Regions from separate parts of the Homo sapiens genome. Here region 2 is linked to region 1. The links come from fine-mapping of genetic effects on plasma protein levels. Region 1 holds a variant in brackets. A gene starts in the other region. All regions are shown on their forward strands. Region 1 holds the start of DAB2 (DAB adaptor protein 2). Region 2 holds the start of NELL2 (neural EGFL like 2).

Evidence for each region. A credible set is the group of variants that fine-mapping cannot tell apart. PIP is the posterior inclusion probability: the model's chance that the variant is causal. Protein levels are from antibody-based Olink assays in UK Biobank. Linkage for the fine-mapping came from a reference panel and not from the study's own genotypes, which makes the PIPs less certain.
Region 2: it holds the start of NELL2, and the variant in region 1 is the best candidate, but not a certain one, in a credible set for the plasma level of the NELL2 protein (UK Biobank, PIP 0.67).

The regions. Positions count from the first base shown.
Region 1 is chr5:39,421,055-39,430,872 of GRCh38, forward strand. DAB2 (DAB adaptor protein 2) reads right to left here and starts at 3,926. Exons shown (of 15, transcript NM_001343.4): 1 at 3,750-3,926. The variant T/G (reference allele first, on the strand shown) is at 3,936.
Region 2 is chr12:44,870,698-44,880,515 of GRCh38, forward strand. It overlaps NELL2 (neural EGFL like 2), which reads right to left and starts at 5,618. Exons shown (of 20, transcript NM_001145108.2): 1 at 5,118-5,618; 2 at 4,528-4,656. The coding sequence starts at 5,172. RefSeq lists enhancers at 5,741-6,242, 6,243-6,742.

The DNA of each region.
Region 1 (9,818 bases):
AGAGGGTGTGGGGAGGACTTAATTGAGACCAGCGAGGTCAGCCTGACCAAACCAAAGTGCAGGCTTCCAGGACGAAAACAGAGAGTAACTCCCTGTCTGTTCTAGCATGAGCACAAGCAAACGCACTGGCTTTATTAAAATCAAGTGCTTGAATAATTAACCTTTTTCAAGTAGGTGAAGGGTATTCAATTTTCATGAAGAAATTTTCCATTTGCTTTCAGTTTTCACAAAGACACTTAATTCAGTTGTTCAGGGGGGAGTAATAACAAACAAACAAAACCTTCAAAATCAGATGGGAAAAAGTATTCCAAGTATATTAGATTAGCTGTCTTCCCAGCAATCCTGGGGTAGGTACTATTATTCTCCCCAGATAAGCAAGCTGAAGTACAGAGAGGTTATGGAATGTGCCCAAGGCCATGTAACCTGCAACCCTGTAGCTAAGATTTGAACCCAGGAAATGGTACTTCAGAAGGTAGTTCTCAACTACTATCCAATTGTGCCCTGTTGGAGGCAGCCAGTGTTGAATGTTAGCCCTCTGTGTCCGTACCAGTCATCATTTGTTCCCCTAACCAGGAATTTGCTTGTTTTCTGTCTTTAAGTAAAGACTGAGGAGTCTGCTTTCCTTCTGATTTCCACCAGTTAATCCAGTCAGGATATGCTGATATTATGAGTTGGGTCTCCTTTAAAGACACATATCTGGTGTTAAATCTGATTCATCTGGCCGGGTGTGGTGGGCTCATGCCTGTAATTCCAGCACTTTGGGAGGCCGAGGTGGGTGGATCACTTGAGGTCAGGAGTTCGAGACCAGCCTGGCCAACATGGTGAAACCCCGTCTCTACTACTACTACAAAAAAAAAAAAAAAATATTATCCAGGTATGGTGGCGGGTACCTCTAATCCCAACTAATCAGGAGACTGAGGTCACAGAATCTCTTGAACCCAGGAGGCAGAGGCTGCAGTGGGTCAAGTTCATGCCAGTGTACTCCAGCATGGGCAACAGAGGGAGACTCTGTCTCAAACAAAACAAAACAAAACAAAACAAAAATCTGTTTCACCTAAATATGATTTTGGCCAACCTTTGTGCAATTCAGCGGCACAGCTTCAACTTTGGAATTACATAGCAGTGCCAGGGAGAATTTTAAAATACCACATCCTGTTACTCAGGTGTTTCATATTGCCAATCTGGTTCCCATTCTGGTTCTGTCTAAAGGGTAAAAAACCTTATGTGTTTGGTTAGTTACCTAAACCTTCCTGGCCAGTAAGCTTTCGAATCTTTCCAGCTGGGGAGGTATGTTCTGATGAGCATTAGGACAACTTCAAACCCCAGGAGGGCTCACTCTCAGCAGCTTTCCCAAGCATTTCAGCATCTTGGCTTTGTCTTTAAGAAGAGCAATAATTAAATCCTCAGGTCAAAAGAATGAGGAAGAGAAACACGCAGAGCCTTCAAAATTATCCAGATGAAATATCAGTGGTAGCAAACTTAGGTTTATGGACATATGAGGGTAGAGTTAGAAATGAAGCAGCATAAGAGCCTATGTCACAGCAAAGCCTCCTGCTTGGCCAGGAGCACTCAGCAAGGAAGATATCTTCCTGCTCCCTTAACCTTCAGATAATCGAGGCCTGGTTGAGCAGGCCAGTAAATATCATCCCCAAACAGCTGGTCAGCAGCTGCCAGAGGTCCCTGTACTACCTTCATGCCAACAAGTGCCTTAAAAGCCGTACCCTTCAACCCAAACAAGGCCAGTGAAATCCATTCAACCTTTGGAGAAAGACAACAAACAGGCCTAATGCACAGGAATTTGGACTTCCAGTTTAATCTGAAACTATAAAAGTCTTTAGCAGAAACACAAACTCTGGAGTTTGCCCTTCACAAATTAGACAAGGTTTGTAACAAGTGCTTTCTTCCCTCACTTACATCCTCAGGTAAAGATCAACCATCAAGATCAAAGATCCCCAGAATGGCAAATACATACGTGTATGGGCTCAAAGTTGGAAGACATTCCTCTACCATCTACTTATTCTGGTTATACATTAAAGCATAGGAGGGCATAGCTGAAAAATGACTGGTTTCTAGGTCAGTCATTTGGATGAGAAGGGATCCTTCCAGCTGGGAGTGGGAAAAGAAGGGGGAAGTTATTCACCAACAACAGGAAAAAGAATTTAGTTGGCCTTAGGAGGAAACTGACTAAGGATTTGGAAGAAGTGGTCTGTCCCAGAAATCCACATTGGCAAAGACCACTAGGTCTTCTTCATGCTTTCTCTAGAAGACTTTCCCATTGTACTCAAATACTCCCGAATTCTCAAGGCAATAAACTTTCTTACAGTGTCACTGAGGGCCATCTCCCTTCCAAGAGGGGAGACACAGAACCTGGAGTGGGCGGGGCACCTGGCTCAGAGAAAAGTAGCCTCCCAAAGTCTGGCTGCTGGGGTAAGAAGCATGGTGACAAGCCATTTGGTAGCTGCAAGCTCCCTCCTCCCCAACAGCCAGTAGGTGCTTTTGTGTGAGAAGCCAACCTCAAGACTGTAAGGACAATCAAGTATACATCTCATCAAAGCCATTCCAAGAGGCTTATCAGACATCTCAAAGGCATTTTTTGTAGATGCCTGCTTTCCACTCCCATTACTTCTGTTTGCATTAGTTATATCTTACCTCCTTCTCCCCCATGCCCCTGCTTTGCCTGACTAAGGCCAGAAATTTTTTCATGAAGTCACTTTATAGAGCAATAGCAACATTTACTATTCGTGAAGTCGCCCCTCCATAATTTTTAAGTCTTTCCATGTGTCTGGAAGCTTGTTTCTGCTCTTCTCGGTTTACAGAGCGGCTCTCTTCCTTCCAAACAAAAACTAAAAAGAAAGGGGAAAAGGTGGGGGGTGGTTGGGGTGGAGATAACACCCAGATTCCTTAAGTGTTTTTAATCCAGTTGAATTTCCCTTTGGACTCAGCTCCCTGCTGAAACTGTCTGCGGACCAGAATTCCAGGCTCAGAATTAAGTCAAGAGGGAAAGACAGCAGAAACAAATAACAGAGTCAGCTCTATGCTATGAAAACCGCTATGTTGACTGAGGCTCCACGGTTTTAACCCATTCATTTTTCCCCCCTTTTTTAGAATTCTTACTTAATCTTTTTAACCAGCTTACAACAGGCAGGCAAGCACCATATAAACCATGCTCCCTGCGCCGGGGGATATAAAACAAGTTTCTTAAGTCCCTTGGGTAGATACTTCCTTAGGAATGCCGGTGTAAGACAAAAGTTCACATTTTAATGCCATATGTTGTCAGTCACCAGGAAAAAGCTCCTTATGGGCACAAGCCAGGTCCCCAGCCTTTGTCACACAGCAAAAATAAACACCCTTCGAGGAGTTAATTAGGCGGTCAGCAGCCACCTCAGTGTCCTAGGAGGGCTGCCCGCAGACCTTTTACACACACACACACACACACACACACACACACACACACACACACACACACACGACACAAAAGGAGGCGTTTGTTAAATGTCACAAGCTGGGCATCTGGAGTCGGATTCGAAAGGTAAATACATTCCGCGGAAGCATTCCTCAGATGTCAGGCCACAAAACTGCTGGTTTCCCCAAGCACAGGGTCTCATTTCTAAGATTCCCCACAGCCCAAGGTCTGTACTCAAAGAAGGGTAGCGGGGGGCGGGGGGGTGAGAGAGGGGGAGCAAAGGAGAGAAGGAGATCTTTAAAAAAAAAATGGAGCCAGAGGGAAGAAGGGTTTCGAAGCTACTCACCGGCTAGCTATTGCCTCCGTGAAGCGAGCATGACTTCCCCGCGCCCGGAGCCTCCAGGCTACAGCGCAGCGGATGCGGCGGGCCTCGCTTAAATAGCCGCCGGCCGGGAGCTTCGGAGCCGCGCGGCCACTCCCGGCGAGAGATATGGTTCTAATCAGATGCTGGCAGCTGAGGACTCCCCAGGAA[T/G]GTGCCAGGATGTTTTTGCTGCCTGGGCTTGGTAACTCCCCCTCAACGTGTCTGCAGAGTCTTCCAAACTTAACTGTTTATTAACTCGCGCTGCAGCGGCGCAGAGGACCCCGCTCCCCTGAGCTCCGCGAGCCCCACCAGCTGGGGGCGATCGCAGGGACCCAGCGACGGGAGGGGAAATGTGTTCGGGGAGAAGTCAAAAGCCCCAGACCGACGCGGGCGGGGGGCGGGTGCAAATAAGGACAGGAAAGGGAAGCTCTGGAGGAAAGGGGTGGGATCCACCGAGCTTCGTTTCACAGATCCGTTCCCTGGATTGCCACTGCGAGTGATGTGGCACACGGAGTCATCCTAACCAACCCGTTGGGGCCCTTTGAACAAAGGACTGCCTTTACTCCTGACTTTTCTGACAAGGGACAACGGTTCCTGCGCAGATCTGCAGTTTCTAAAGTTGATCGCGCGATTGGATTTGCTCCCCTTAGAAGAAATTAGTGTCTCCCTCATTGCAGATGCAAATGCGCTTAAGTTAGTGGGAAATCTATGTGTGCATATGTGAAACATACTGTATTTACCTATGAAATATAATCATATATATGGATATAAAAATAATATTCTCTCTGAAATCGATATGAGCAAAACATGTTCACGTCTATGTAGCCTATCAAATAAGTTATAATTCTGATACAATCAGAGATTCTATACAGGCTTCCCTTACAGTGTATATACACCTATATGTAGACACATAACATGACTTTATCTGCATGAATTTCCATAGCACTTCCTATAACTCTAGGAAAAACATGAACTGCAAGAAATAAAATATTTAAAAATGTTAACGTAGAGTGCTGAGCGGTAGAAGGTACTCCGCAGCAAATCCTAATGAGTGTTAACAAGCTGAGAATTCATTTTCTCCATATTTTAAAATCAAGAATTATTGTAAAACATCCACAGAAGCTCTGTTGCTTTTTGGAGAATTCTGAAATTACTCTTGTGAAAGACGTGTCTCTTTTCCCTTTTTTTAAGAAAAAAATTTAATTGTTTAAAGTCAGAGGCAGCACGTAGTAAATGTGAAAATGCTAAATTGTATCTCGGATGGGAGGGGGTTATTGATTTTATCGAGTAAGCAACACAGTGGATTTGCATTTTACCTCTGGAAACTGAGGGTTCAAATAGGGCTCGTGGGACATCAAGGATATATTTTGTGGTCCGTGCCTAGCCTCGACTGCAAAGCCACTGTGTAATTTGGGGTAGCTCAATGTGAGTGGCAATGTCTGCTCTCAAGTAGGTCAGGCTTGAAACAACCGTTGTTCGGGGAGACTGAGGGGTGCAGAGCAGCACAGCTGGCCCAGAATTCTACTTCCCCAGCCTCTACTATTTCTCATCCCCTGACACACCTAGGGGTGTGGAGGCAGGGAGGGCCATGCTGGCAGTTTTCAATATTCCTCAGAGGTAATTTGCTATTTTAAAAAATGACTTTGTGTGAATGACAGGAAGTATACAAATTTTAGTCCTAGGATAGTATTCTATTTATAACATTTATGCAGAGAAATGTAATTCTAGTACATTTTAGAACACAAGGCTTTGTTTCTAAAATCTAGAAGTCCAGTTTCATTTCTATTGGCTAGGTAGCTGGAAAAAGGGCTGCTGACTTCAGGCAAATAGAGACTTTGATAATTAGAAAGACATGGGTGTCTCTTTTAACCTCAATATGTAATATTTTCTAGACTAAGAAGTGCTCACTCAATTCTATTTTTTTTTTTTTTGAAAGACTCTTACCAAGAAATACTAACTTATGTTTGCTCTACCCCACCAAATGGAAGGGATTTGTCTAAGAAGCCAGAGGAAGAAAATGATTTCATCTGCTATGAGTTGTAGTTTCAAGAGAAGACTTTGATGAAAACAGTTCATTTAAGAGCAGTGGGCTCACACTTACAACTTAAAATAGACACCTCTTATTTTGCACAGAAATCTGAAGAGTCGACAGTGGAGAATTCTGGTTTGAACTGTATTTTTATATCTCTAGGGCACCGATATTGCTTCTGGCAGTAATTCAATGTCCTGCTCACATTAAGAAAAAAAAAGAAAAGAAATTTAACTCTTTTTATCCCTCGTGAAACATTGTCTCTGTCTCATCTAAGTTGTTCACTTTTCAACAAGTCTAAAATGAACATCTTTCCCTCTGGAGAATCACGCCAAAGCCCACCCAGATATTTACCCTGCCTAAATAATGGTCTTTTCTTATCACCACTGAAATTTATGTTTAGAAAATTAAGGGGAGGAAAAGTCAGTTCAATGTTTGAAAAACAATAGTCTTTGAATGGCAATTGTCCGTTGCAGAAAACCTGCCTGTGAGAGAGAAGGAAAAAATAAAATAAAACAAATGACTGTGCTCCCAGCCTAGGAAAGGGGTAGTTAATCCCGTGATGGCTTGCTGAAGAATGCATGGTTTATTATTAAAGTAATCTCTTAAGATTTTCCTGGAATGTGCTTCCACAGCAACTCTGCCTGTTCGACCTATCCTATGCATGTGTCTTTTCTTCCATAATTAAGCTGTTTTCCTCTGTTAGCTCACAGACCTAATCCTTTATCCTTTCTCTCCTCCTTCTCCATCACTTCTTCTATCCCCCTCTCTACTGCTCTTGTCTTCCTTAAACTGCCCCTTTTGAAGCCTGTCATTTCTCCTGAATTGTAAATGGCACTTTGGAACTGGCTGTAAGGTAAACTGCCTGTGTGCCTTTGATGCCTTGCTGGACACTTAGAGATGTTAAAATCAAACAAGGATTTGTTGAAGTGGACCTAGTAAGGTCACATCTCTCTCTCTCTCCTTTTTTTTTTTTCCTTCTCCATGTCATTAAAAAAACAATGAAGAGAATGGCTATTGTTCCCAGAAAATGTTCTTTGACCTTGACCAGTCCTGCATATTTAACATTACAGAAAAACTGACCCTACCAGATTTGGTGGCTGGCAAGTCAAAACAAATACTGGAGGTTTTTTTTCATATCTCTGTCTATCCATCTACCTGTCCATCTTCTGATCTAAAATATTTGGAAGATAGTTTCATAGAAGGCAGCCTGTTTGTGTTTTGTTTTCTTGCTTATACCCCTATAGCATCTCAGAACTAATATGTATTTTTCTGTTTTGTGCAATTTTAATGAAACTCAGGTGGTAGACTACTAGGGTACTTGGAAAAATTGGTACTTGTAAAATGAAGAACATTTAAAATTCAATAATATAAATGTATATAACTAATTACACCTCACTTATCAATATAAATTTTTATAATGAGAAATTGTGAAAGGCAAGTAAATACCCATAAAAATTACCATTCAAATAAATACTGTCTTACTTGGAAAGAAACCTAGCAGGAGTTATCAAAAATGAAAATACATAAAACCCTGCAGGAATTACTAATATTAATTGTTATTGTAGCAAACACATACACTTCTCTATCCTAGGAGTAAGAATCTATCCACTAGAAATAAAGCACATGTATAATATGCAAGGATTTTTTTTTTTTTATTTTTCTGAGATGGAGTCTTGCTCTGTGGCCCAGGCTAGAGTGCAGTGGCAAGATCTCGGCTCAGTGCAACCTCCGCCTCCCGGGTTCAAGCAATTCTCTGCCTCAGCCTCCCGAGTAGCTGGGATTACAGGTGCCCACCACCATGCCCAGTTAATTTTTGTATTTGTATTTTTAGTAGAGACGGGGTTTCACCATCTTAGCCAGGCTGGTCTCATGATCCACCCGCCTCGGCCTCCCAAATTGCCGGGATTACAGGCATGAGCCACCACTCCCTGCCCCCAAGGTTGTTAATTGTATCATTTATAGCAGCAGGAAGCTAGGACAAAATATGCCTGTCAATGGAGAATGACTGAGTATGTTATGACTTATCCATACTGTGAAGTCATATGTAACCATTCAAAGGAATAAATTAGAGTCAAATTTTGTGACATGGGAATATTCCTTTAGGTTTTTTTGAGTGAGAAAAGCAAGGTACAGAAAAGCATGGAAAAGATGTTTCTATTTTAGTAATATAAAAAGCAACACCTATTTATATATATTTGGGTATATATGTTTGTGGGTATATATGAAGGATTATCAAGGAGGTTGCAGTACAGATTACTAGGGGCCTGGTGGAGACAAGGGCAGAGAAAAGGGGTGGGAGCCATGCAAAAAGGAAAAAACTGAAAATAGTCTTTATGCAGGTATAGGTCACATTTATGCATTGAAGTGAAATGATATACACGCAGGTTTGTGGGTTTTTTTTCAAAAAGATTATATCATTTTAAGATAAGGAAAGGAAGAAAGGAAATCCTACGAATAGTTTTCATGGAGGTCTACCTTTAGGCTTTTCAAAAGTGAGTATTCATCAGTATGCTCATTGCTTAATTCAGCCTCCAGAGCAATAGTTCTCAAATTGTAGTATTTACGACAGTCATCCCGGAAGTTGGCTACTAGAGTAAATTCCTGGGCTCAGCCTCAGAGACTTCTCTGGAAAGGTCTGTGGTGGGGGTACCAGGGAATCTGTTTTTTGTTTTTTGTTTTTTGTTTTTTTTTTTTGAGACGGAGTCTCGCTCTGTCACCAGGCTGGAGTGCAGTCACGCGATCTCGGCTCACTCAAGCTCTGCCTCCCGGGTTCACGCCATTCTCCTGCCTCAGCCTCCCGAGTAGCTGGGACTGCAGGCACCCGCCACCACGCCCAGCTAATTTTTTGTATTTTTAGTAGATACGGGGTTTCACCGTGTTAGCCAGGATGGTCTTGATTTCCTGACCTCGTCATCTGCCCGCCTCGGCCTCCCAAAGTGCTGGAATTACAGGCGTGAGCCACCGCCGCCCGCCCGGAATCTGTGTTTTAATCAGCACTTCCAGGTCATTCTGATGCAGTGGTCTTGGGGACCACACTTTCAGAGATGCTGCTTTTCTCCTGAGAGAAATGGTGAAACCGCGTCTCTATTAAAAAAAACACACACAAAAATTAGCCAGGCGTGGTGGCGCACACCTATAGTCCCAGCCACTCAGGAGGCTGAGGCAGAAGAATTGCTTGAACCCAGGAGGCGGAGGTTGCAGTGAGTGGAAATCGCACCAATGCACTCCAGCCTGGGGTGACAGAGCAAGACTCCGTCTCAAAAAAAAATAAAAATAAAAATAAAAATAAAAAGACAAAGAAAACAGGTCTAACCATTCACAGACATTCGATTCGGTCCCTAAACACTTCTGCTCCATTCCAACCATGCGCATGTGATGTGCTTAGGTTTCTGGACTGATTGAATAGCCTCAGTTTTAAAATGGAATGGTCACTTGTGAATGAAGAAGGAATACCATTTGCTGTACTCGTTTAATGCTCATGCTCAAGGTCACGTCTTCATTAGAGAATGGAGGGAAGCTGTGTCTGGACTCCAGGATGATTTAACTCCCTAATGAGTGTGAAGCACATGTACATGCACACGCTTCACACAAGCGTCTGTGTGCCTGTTCGTATATGCATTTTCTGGAGAGGTGCACTATAGATTTCCCTGGATGATCAAAGGACCCCATAGCATAAAACAAGGTTAAATTCCATTGCATTGTGGTTTTATGGCCATTCCACATTCTTTCTATTTTTTTTAATCTGAGGATTTTATCTAATCTTTTGTACCAATCTTATACTTATCCTCACAACATCATTGACAAACGGGTTAGGCAAGTAGTCCTGTTTCTAAAGGTTAAGAAATGTTGGTGCAGGAACCTTGATTTACTTCTGTTCAGAGTGAGAGACAGAACTAGAACTACTACCCAAGTCTTCTGAAAGATCTAGAACTGCACAGGTCACACAGCCTGACTTAACCATAATTATAGTGGCTAGTGACAACTCTTCGGGTTCACTGTACCCTGCAGTGGTCTGTCCACAC
Region 2 (9,818 bases), not on the chromosome of region 1:
TTTTCTCATATCACATCACTCTACACTGACTATTCTGCTTCCTTCTCCCCATTTCAAAAGATTCTTCTGATTACACAGGGCTCACCCAGATAACCTATGATAGCCTCCTAATCTTAAAGTCAGCTGATGAGCAAACTTAACTTCCCCTTGCTGTATAACGTAACCTATTGTTTGGTTCCAAGAATTAAGACATGAACATCTATGCAGGACCATTATTCTGCCCACCATAATATATATTTCCATAATGATAAATTTTCAATTCTGCTCTATTAGTATAGCCTACCATGTAACCTGGTTCCTGCTTTCCTCATATACTTTATTTCATATCACATGCCCTATGTTTCTACTTCTCTAGACTTCCTCCACGTTCTCAAATGCACATTCATCCCATGCTCAGAACCTTGCTCACACACTAGTCCCTTTGCCTATCCCCATAGCTTCTCTTCTTTGGACTACTCTTACATATCCTTCAACTATCAGCTTAAATGACTATTCTTCAAAGATGGTTTCCCTGAGCCTGAGACTCCCCTAACTAAAATATAGATTCCCATTATATCTTCAGTTTTTCTTCATATAATTTATCTTAATGGTGATTAGGTCTGTAACTATGTAATTGTTCAACGGCTATTTTTAAGACACTATGAAATCAAAGTTAAGTTCTAACGTCTTCATTTGTTATGTGCCTAACACCTAGCAGTATGCTAGTTTCCCAAAAATAACTTATTTGAAAGAATGAAAGTAACTCGCTTAATTGTCATAACAATGATCATTTTATAATTGAGGGTACTGGAGCTTAGAGAAATTAAGTAACTTCACCACAGTAAAACAACTAATGAAATTCCACCTCAGTCTATCTTGTTTCTAAGTGCATCTCTTAAACACTGTGTTATTCCACACTATTTGGGCACCAACAGCCATCACTTCAAAGTCCACAGATGCTCACCAACCATCATACTGAAGACAAATTAGTGCCACCTCGATTTCCTCAATGCAGTTACCTTTGCCTACTAAAGTCCATGGTCTATTACCAAATGCCTATTTCACTCTGCGTAACACTGGCATAAGAGGAGACGTACGACCTTTTTTTCCCTTTAAAACCTTAAAGTTTTTTACAAATAACTACTAAGCTTATTTTCAACTTAACAACTTGTAAAAAAAACATGCTTTGATTTTATCCACTTCTCTTCTATGGATTAATGAGATTATAAAATCTGTTAACACTTCAGAAGAAATTGTATTAAACCAACAGAGGAAATTATCTACTTTGGGAACCTGGCCAGATTAATTGTTAAAATCAAAGATCTAAAAATCATGCTAACATTGCTAGAAAGTCCTAGAATGGTGCTTCTGTATACTCTCATTCCTGATCCCTCATGTACAGAGAGGAAAAAAACATTATTATGATCATTATCTTGGGGAATACTTCCTAGATTTTAGAAAGTAGAACCCTTTATAACCTTTCATAGGTCTTTTTATTGTCTACATTCACTCCTCTAATTTTTAAAAGCATAATAAGTGTATTTTTGTGGCTGCAAGTCAGATTATAGCTAGAAATGACTAGAAAATTGCCTGGATTCCTTTTTTGAAAATTATGGTAATTGGCAAAGATCAAAAGCCATATTTATTAAGGTGTAATCTAATTTAGCATCTTATTACTTGAATTTCCAAAACAACTATAAATCAAATTTCAACAACAACAAAACCATTTTAGTGATACTATAGTTGCTATTATTATTTTTAAAACATATGACTTTAAAATATATTTCCATTTGTTTTTATTAGGTATAGATAATAATAAATTTACGAGTTTCAAAAGGTATTGAATTGCATGCATCTCAAAATCCACTAAGGAGAAAAACTGGCACAAGGAAAAGCAATATTAAATGAGCAAAAATCACTGGGAAAGTATATGTTGAGATTTCTTTATTTTAAAGCTAAAAGACAGAAGAAGATGGTTACATTACTGCAGGAAAAATTTGATGGTCCAAAAATCTCTTCCATCTATTTAGAACATATCTGATAGCACAAAGAAACTTATATGATAGGTTCATATGAAACCTGAGAGCATCTCACGGATTTTGTAATTTGTTACTATTCCTGCTATGACTATGTATAGTGTATATGTATATACCGTACAAAATATCTGCAGCACCCTCAACTCACTGTAAATAGAATCTATAAAATCTTCAGTCTGTATATTTTTTTCTCTCTAAAGCCAAAGGAAATCTCAATGAAGCAGCAAGACTCGGAACTGACTTCTTAACAAGTTTCCAAATGCTATTAGCAAAGACCTTGCCAAGGTAATGCGAAATTCCATGCATGGCCAAAGGGCCACCTTTTGTCAATTTCATAATCCGAATCTTAGAATAAAAGAAATCACAAGAGCATAATCAATACATCAGTAATATATGCCTACTGAGAACATGGCATGCAGGAAATACTTGCTGATTGATTGGTTATATTAAATAAAGTCCATAATTTGGCAGAAAATGAAATTTTACACCTTCAAATCTCATAAACCATATTTGTTAGGCATTTACTCTGTCTAAATATTGAGCTCGGCATCAACAAGGAAGGAAAAACAACCAATTCATCAATGTACATGGATATCTAGTTACTATGGACAATTCAAACAAAACATTTTATATGCCTTATGTATTTTGAACACCTACCTTGAAGAATTTGACAATTTAAATAAAAATGAATAACTAAACATTTTTAATTAACCAGGAAAAGTTATCGATTCCTGAGACTATTTCCTAAAAATGGTTTAATTTTCTAGCATCAGAATATAAAATGCACAGTCCTGAAGGTTTCTATTTGTGACAGATCAGACACTCTTCAGAGGAAACTAGGTAGAATACTAATAAAATTTAAAGGAGCTTTGTAAATTTTAAGAGCACTACAATACCATTTGTTTATTAGGAGCTTTAGATTCCATAAAGCTTTCCAGTTACTCGAATTGGCAGTCCTGAAATAACTTTGTTTCCAGTTCATAGGGATTAAAAATCAGAGATAAAAACAACACAATACAAAACAACAACAACAAAAAAAAAAAAACAGAAGGTTAACCCTACTGACACTTCTATTCAACTGTGTGAAATTCTGCTGACAATGTAGCCTTATCTTCTTTATTATATTTGGTCATTGTTTTTAAAGGATTCAATATCCAAGCCCCACCCTCTTATAAAAGACCCTTAAGTGAATAAAACATTACCATAAATATTTGTTACAATAAAAAATTAACTTAAACATAAAATTTAAACAATAATTTTTAAGCCAGAAAATTGCATTTTAATTTTTTATAAGAGCAAACTTGTTTTAAGTAAATGTAACACATGTGAATTTCCTCCTTTCCCAACTCTAAGCTTTGGTTTTAGTGTCCATGGTGACACATACTGGCTATATCAGGCAACAACACCACTACAGAAACACTCAAGTTTTATTTTATTTCTATTTCTTGGTAGCATATTTTCCGAAGTGGTTTCCTTTTGCATATCCAACTCTTTAGTAATTATGAATTGCACTTTCAAAGCCATGGCACCAAAATAACAACAACAACAACAAAAATCTGGGTGAGGTAGGGCAAGAAGCTTTAGTCCATTAGATATGTTAAACCAAACTCCATTCTCTTTTGCCTTCATGTATTCTTCACCATACATGAATCTAGTCTGTCTGTACACGTTTAGCTACCTTTTAGAAGCTCTTATTACGGCAACTTTCCACAAACAAGCAATCCTCAAAAGCTCTAATCAAAGTTGAAGGTTTGCTGCATTGGAATTTGCTTCTGACTGCACAACACATTTAAATATAATTTGAGATGTAGACATTTGTGCCCAGCCAATATCCATTGACTTCAAAAAAAAGTTGTAAAATCGTAAGTACACAATTAATGATAATATGAGATACACTTCTAGATTAACATTTACTTGAAATCTTTCCAAAATACTTTTGAGACCATTATTCCCTTTCTCTTGTTATTGGTGGATGAAGGAAGAATGAGGGTCTTTCAAAGATAAATTTTGCCTCAAATATACTGCGACTGTGATATGCAGTAAGTAAAAATATTCAGAGGCATTAATTTTTCCAGAAAGCTACCCCCATAAAACAATTCCTCCAAGCAGGGCACCATCGTACCTGAAACTTTCAGAGATCAGTGTCTTAACTAAGATTAAGCTATCCTTTTTCCTACCTAAATCAATTTCACCCAAACGAGGCGTTTGTGTTATAATTCATTGTTCCCCAGATTCTAAAATCAACCATCTGCCATAGGAGTTTCTGCTCAGTAATTAAGGGACTATCCATTAGAACTGGCAAGAGTACAAAGTACGAAGGAGAAGGGTGAGGCAGGGGAGAAAAAACCACTTAAAAGAGATAGGGATATGTGTCTCACACTGGCCCTTCTACACCTCAGCTAAAGTACTGTCATCCATGAGGCAATACAAAGTTAGGACAAGCGGCAAGAGCAACTCCTGCCGGGGTTATCGGAACTGAAATCACAGTGGGGATGCAGCACGCCGGGCATACCTTGAAAGAGAAAGGCTTTCGTCCCATTATGCAGCCCCGGGACCTGACGCACTCCGGTCGTGGACTCCCCAAGTTCTAACTCTGTTAAGACGTCAATCTGTAGGGAAGGGTCCACACCAAGCCCCCAAACTGGTGAGGGGTATGAGGTGGGAGAGAGAAAAAGGAAAAGCTCCATCAAAATGCAAGTCTCTTCCTCCAGGGCAGCAAAGAACCGCGTTTTCGCGACAATATTGGGAACTGAAGATGAGAGGCGACTGCCTCCTCCTCCGCCGAGAGCCTTACCTGAGATCAGCAGCCAAGCTTTAAATAGCGGAGCACCCAGTCCCGTTTCCATGACCTCCTTTAAACCCTTCTCTCTGCAAAGTTCCCCCTCAGCCCTCCGACCCTGGACTAGGGGCGTGATCCGCCTCGCGGTCTCCAAGGCAAGCACAGAAAAAAAAAAAATCCATATCCAAACCCGCCCCCTTACTCCAAGCTTCCCACTCCAGACCTACTTTGGGTCCGGGAAAAGCGAGGCTTCCCCAGCCAGCCCATGCTGCCCCGAGGCGGGAGCCATCCCTTTCCCCAGCCCCAGCTCTGCGGCCACTCACCTGCTCCGAGACCGAAGATCAAACAGAATGTTCTCAGTAAGACCCGAGACTCCATGGTGCGGATCAGCTCAGTCCATCGTCTCCCTCTTTAAAAATAAAAATAAAAATCGAAGAGGTTCTTGGAATCAAGCGGGAAAATAACGTTTGTCTCTCCTGCTGCTGCCTCGGATTTACTGATCAGTAGGATTAATACGCTTTGGTTGCCTAAGAAAGAAAAGGGAGGCCTCCCCAGGCGCGTGAAGAACTTAGACCCTCCAATGCGCACATCATTCCCACACGCAGGGCCGAGGCGGCAGCGCGGCCCGGAGGGGGCCCGGAGGGAGGGGTCGGACTCGCCCCGGCGCGGCTCCGTCGGGGAATTAGCTCCCGAGCCGAATAAAAGCAGCCAAAGACTCGCACACCCGGTAGAAGGGGGGCGGCCCCAAGAAAGCCCGGGCTGGGGCGGCCCCGCACCCCCCCGTCTTCCCCGCCGCCCGAACCTGTTGTAAAGGCAGAGACAATGGAGAAAGCTCCGGGAGACGCGCGGAGAGACTGCTCCTCCGGGGAGGGAGGGGCGGGCCGGGGGAGGCGGGGTAAGGAGGAGGGAGGGGCCGCCGAGGGCGAGGCCGGCGCTCAGCGTCGGTCTCCCGCACGGTCTCCTGGATGCCAAACCCGGTCTAGGGAGCCCAGGAGCCGTTGCAGCCTCAGCTCTTCTCCCTCCCTCTCTCGATGACCCGGGCAATGCCAACCTCCTTTCGGGATTGAAAGCTCTAAATCCAAGGTGCTAAGTTGATGGGCGGTCTTTGCTCTCACCCCTCGATTTCGGGCGCGTGTCTTGAAAGACAGGAGAGAAAAAAGACCACCCAGCTGCAGGAGGCAAGGCTGGAGCGAGTAGCGCTCGCCTGCCCTTTAAGCAAAGGAGGGAAGCCCATGTGCACTCGTGCACTGGGCTCCGGAGCAGCCCCGGGGTGCAGGGCACTCCCCCTCCAGGGCGTGCGGAGGAAGGCCACCAAAACACGCTGCACTGCCGAGGTGGAGCTGGGCAAAGTAGGTAGAGACTGGTGGGGACGGATGGCGAGCCTGGGAAGCCCCGGGTGTCCTGGTGGAGAGGTTCCCTGCCGGGGGCGGGGCGCTGGAGAGCTTCCCCGGCGCGGAGAGCTTCCCGGGCGCGGAGAGCGCAGAGAACTTGGCCAGGAGGTGCTGGACAGCTCCGGAACCCGCGCGCCCCCTGCCAAATAAAGCGTGGAGACCCGGACTCGGGCTCTCTGGGACCAGCATACAGCAGAAGGCAAGGGGAACTGAGCCAGGGCGTCTGTTCACGCCGAAATATCTACCTACATAGAGGAGATGGTTAGAGAGAGAGAGAGAGAGAGAAATAAATAAATACGTAAATAAGCAGAGGGAGGAGATGGAGCCCAGGCGAGAGAGAAGAGCCATCCCACTGTTGACCACACTCATGCAGGCTCTACCTGCCCTTCACCACATATGTCCGGGACCATAAAAGTGGTGTCCTTTGAGATCCATTTTTCAGCAGGCACATGTATGTTCAAGATCAATGGTACATAATATTTTTTGAACATAGCCCTAAAATTTTTAGGTAAATTTTGAGGAATGGCATTCCACTTTCATTTTGGAAAAGTTAAGAGTTTAAAAAACCATTATGGTATTAATCTGTACAAAGATCAATTGGGTTTCTTAACCTTCCATGCAAACATGTGGGTACTGAATTCTCCAACTGGATACTAACAGCTACAGTTACCAAAATGCCTACTGGGTAGTCTGAGCCCCCTGCAAGGCAGGAGTATAATATACATTTTATCTATAGATATATAGTTATAGATATTATCATATAGTGGAATACATATACTATATTATACTATAGGGAAAGAGGTATTTTTAGATCTGCCCTTAGAATTTTTAAGACAAAAGATTCAGAATTCGGGAGCTCTTTTAAATTAATTTTTAATTCTCTCTTATCGAATTTCCCATTTAATTCTATTTGTAACTTTGTAAAGTTTGAGAAATATTTCAGTACTTACAAGTGATAAAGGATTGTCATATGCAATTTCCCAAATTTGAAAAACTATGCCAAATAAATAATACAATTTAATTAATCAATGAAAAGAAATTAATCATCAGAGAATTAAAGACCTTTCTACAGCTGTGCATCTAAAATATTCAATTGTAATAAGTATCTACAGAAGCTACACGAAATAAATTTTAAATAACGTAGCATTTAAAATGCTATCATTAGAGAAAAGAATAAAACATAAATATACATATGCACATATATATTTCCACATAAAAGTCCTCCTAACCAACCTGTGTTCAACCAACTCATGAAAGTAGGGATACTCTCGAGTTTCTCTGACTCTCATCCATATGCTGAAAGCTGGTGGTTAATGGGCTTATCTCCAGTACCATACACACTGAGGCTCCCTCCAGAACAGTGGTATTTGGTACCCAAAATAATTCTAGTTGAACCTGCTACTGTAATTATTTGACCTAATTAAATAGTATGGAAATCATTAAAATATGAGTATGGGGAGGTGTGAAGAGTTGTTTCTCTAAAACTAAGGTATAAGGTTTGGAAACCCATAGTAAAGGTGAGCCATTGTATTAGCTAGGGCAGAGTTTCTCAACCTGGGCAGGAGTTTTCAACATTATAACTACTAACATTTTGGGGCTGGATAATTCTTTATTGGGGCTGTCCTGTGCCTTGTAGGATGTTAGTTGAATTCTTGGTCTCTATCCACTGAATGCCAGTATTTTCAGTATTCCATTTTATCTATGTGTTCTTTTGACTATATCTCTTTGTGAAGCTTTTAAAATTGGTATTCTAGGGAATACAATATACATACTTAACTTTTCACCTTCTACCTAGAGTCCATACATTACCACTTCAGTTCGAATACAGAAGCTTTACTACCACATCAAATCCCTTTATCCTCAACTCTTTAGGTTGTAGTTGTCTTATGTATTATATCTACATACACTCAAACTCCTTTTAGACAATGTTAAAATTTTGCTTGCAATCATTGTTGTAGGCATAATAATATTCCAATCCCCTTCCCCTTAAGAAACAGTCTTTTCCAGTTCCTAATCAGTGGAACCTGTGTATGTTACCTCACATGGCAAAGGGGATTTAAGGTTGCAGATGGAATTAAGATTGTTAATCAGGTAACCTTAAAATAGGAAGATTATTTCAGATTATCTGGGTATGCCCAATATAATCACGAGGGCCCTTAAATGTGGAAGAAGGAGGCATAAGAGGAGGTCAGATTAATGCAATATGAGAAGAACTCGACTTCCTGTTGCTGACTATGAAGATGGGAAAATATAGAAGGGCTATGAGACAAGGAATATGGGAGGCATCTAGAAATTGGAAATGGCAAGGAAAAAGATTATCCCTTAGAGCCTCCAGAAAAGAATACAACCCTGCTGATAACTTGACTCTTGCCCAAAAAAGTCAAGACTGTTTTAGACTTCTGAACAACCATCCGTAAGATAATAAATTTGTGTTGTTTTAATCCACTAAATTTGTGGTAGTTGGTTACAGCATCCACGGAAAACTAATATAAGTACTGACTACATGAGGAAAAGTTCAGTAAACATGGTTGACTCTAACGACCCTTAGATCCCTTCCTACCATATACACATATCAAAGCTAAGTAAAATGCCCAATTTTTAAATTCACAGATGAGCTTTAAATTAAGAAAAGAAAATCCCCAGGTGCTAGAAAAAAGACATAGCAGAAGATGGACAGAGAAAGCAATAGGTGGTGCAAGAATTTGGAGAGGGTGGAACACAGGGATTCAGACTCTATCGGGACCCTAAGAAAATAGAGTGGGATTTTAACATCCACACCAGAACTGAAAACAACAAATTTTGGAAGCCAGAAAAGATGATGATATTACTGATTCTTCTGATAAGAGTAGTAAGCTTTGAAGAATTATATCTCCTACAAAAAGAAACTTTTGAAACTTTAAAACTTTGCATGTTGGCCGAAGCTTGCCAGCTGCACGTGCCCTTGTGGAAAACCAATGCACCTATACTAAATGTCAAATCTCAAGCTTTGCCACTTGCAGGTACAAGGTCCGAGATCACACTCCTCACTGATATGGAAATTCTAAAATCAAAAAGTAGCATTAAACTCCCAGGGTCTTCTGAAGAAGCAAATATAAGACTTCTTTTAAGTGACTTTCTATGACTTCTGGTACACAAGAAGAAAATTCCTGCTGTGCAATAATAATAATAATAATTGTCATTGTTATTACTATTACACTGAGATAAAAGACTATGAAAAATAGTCAAGAAACATACACACACACACACACACACACACACAGAGAGAGAGAGAGAGAAAAACAGAGAATTAGTATCTCATGACCTCAGGATATCAAAAAATAAAGTGACAGAAAACATAAAATAAGAATGTTTAAGTGATTGGAGATATTTTTAAAGGGATATAAAAGAAATGAAATGACAGAATTGTATGAGAAAAGAGTAGACATATCTCAAAAGAAACCAAATAGAACTTCTAGCAATAAAAGTATGTTTAAAAACAATATTAAAAACCATTAGCTCTAATAAGCAGCAATAAAACAGTGCTAAAAATTAGTGACCAAAAACATTGAAAACAAAAAGTCAGATGTGAGAATATTACTGAGAATGTGCCAAGACCGATAAAAAGAATGGAAAACATAAACAAAACATGAATGT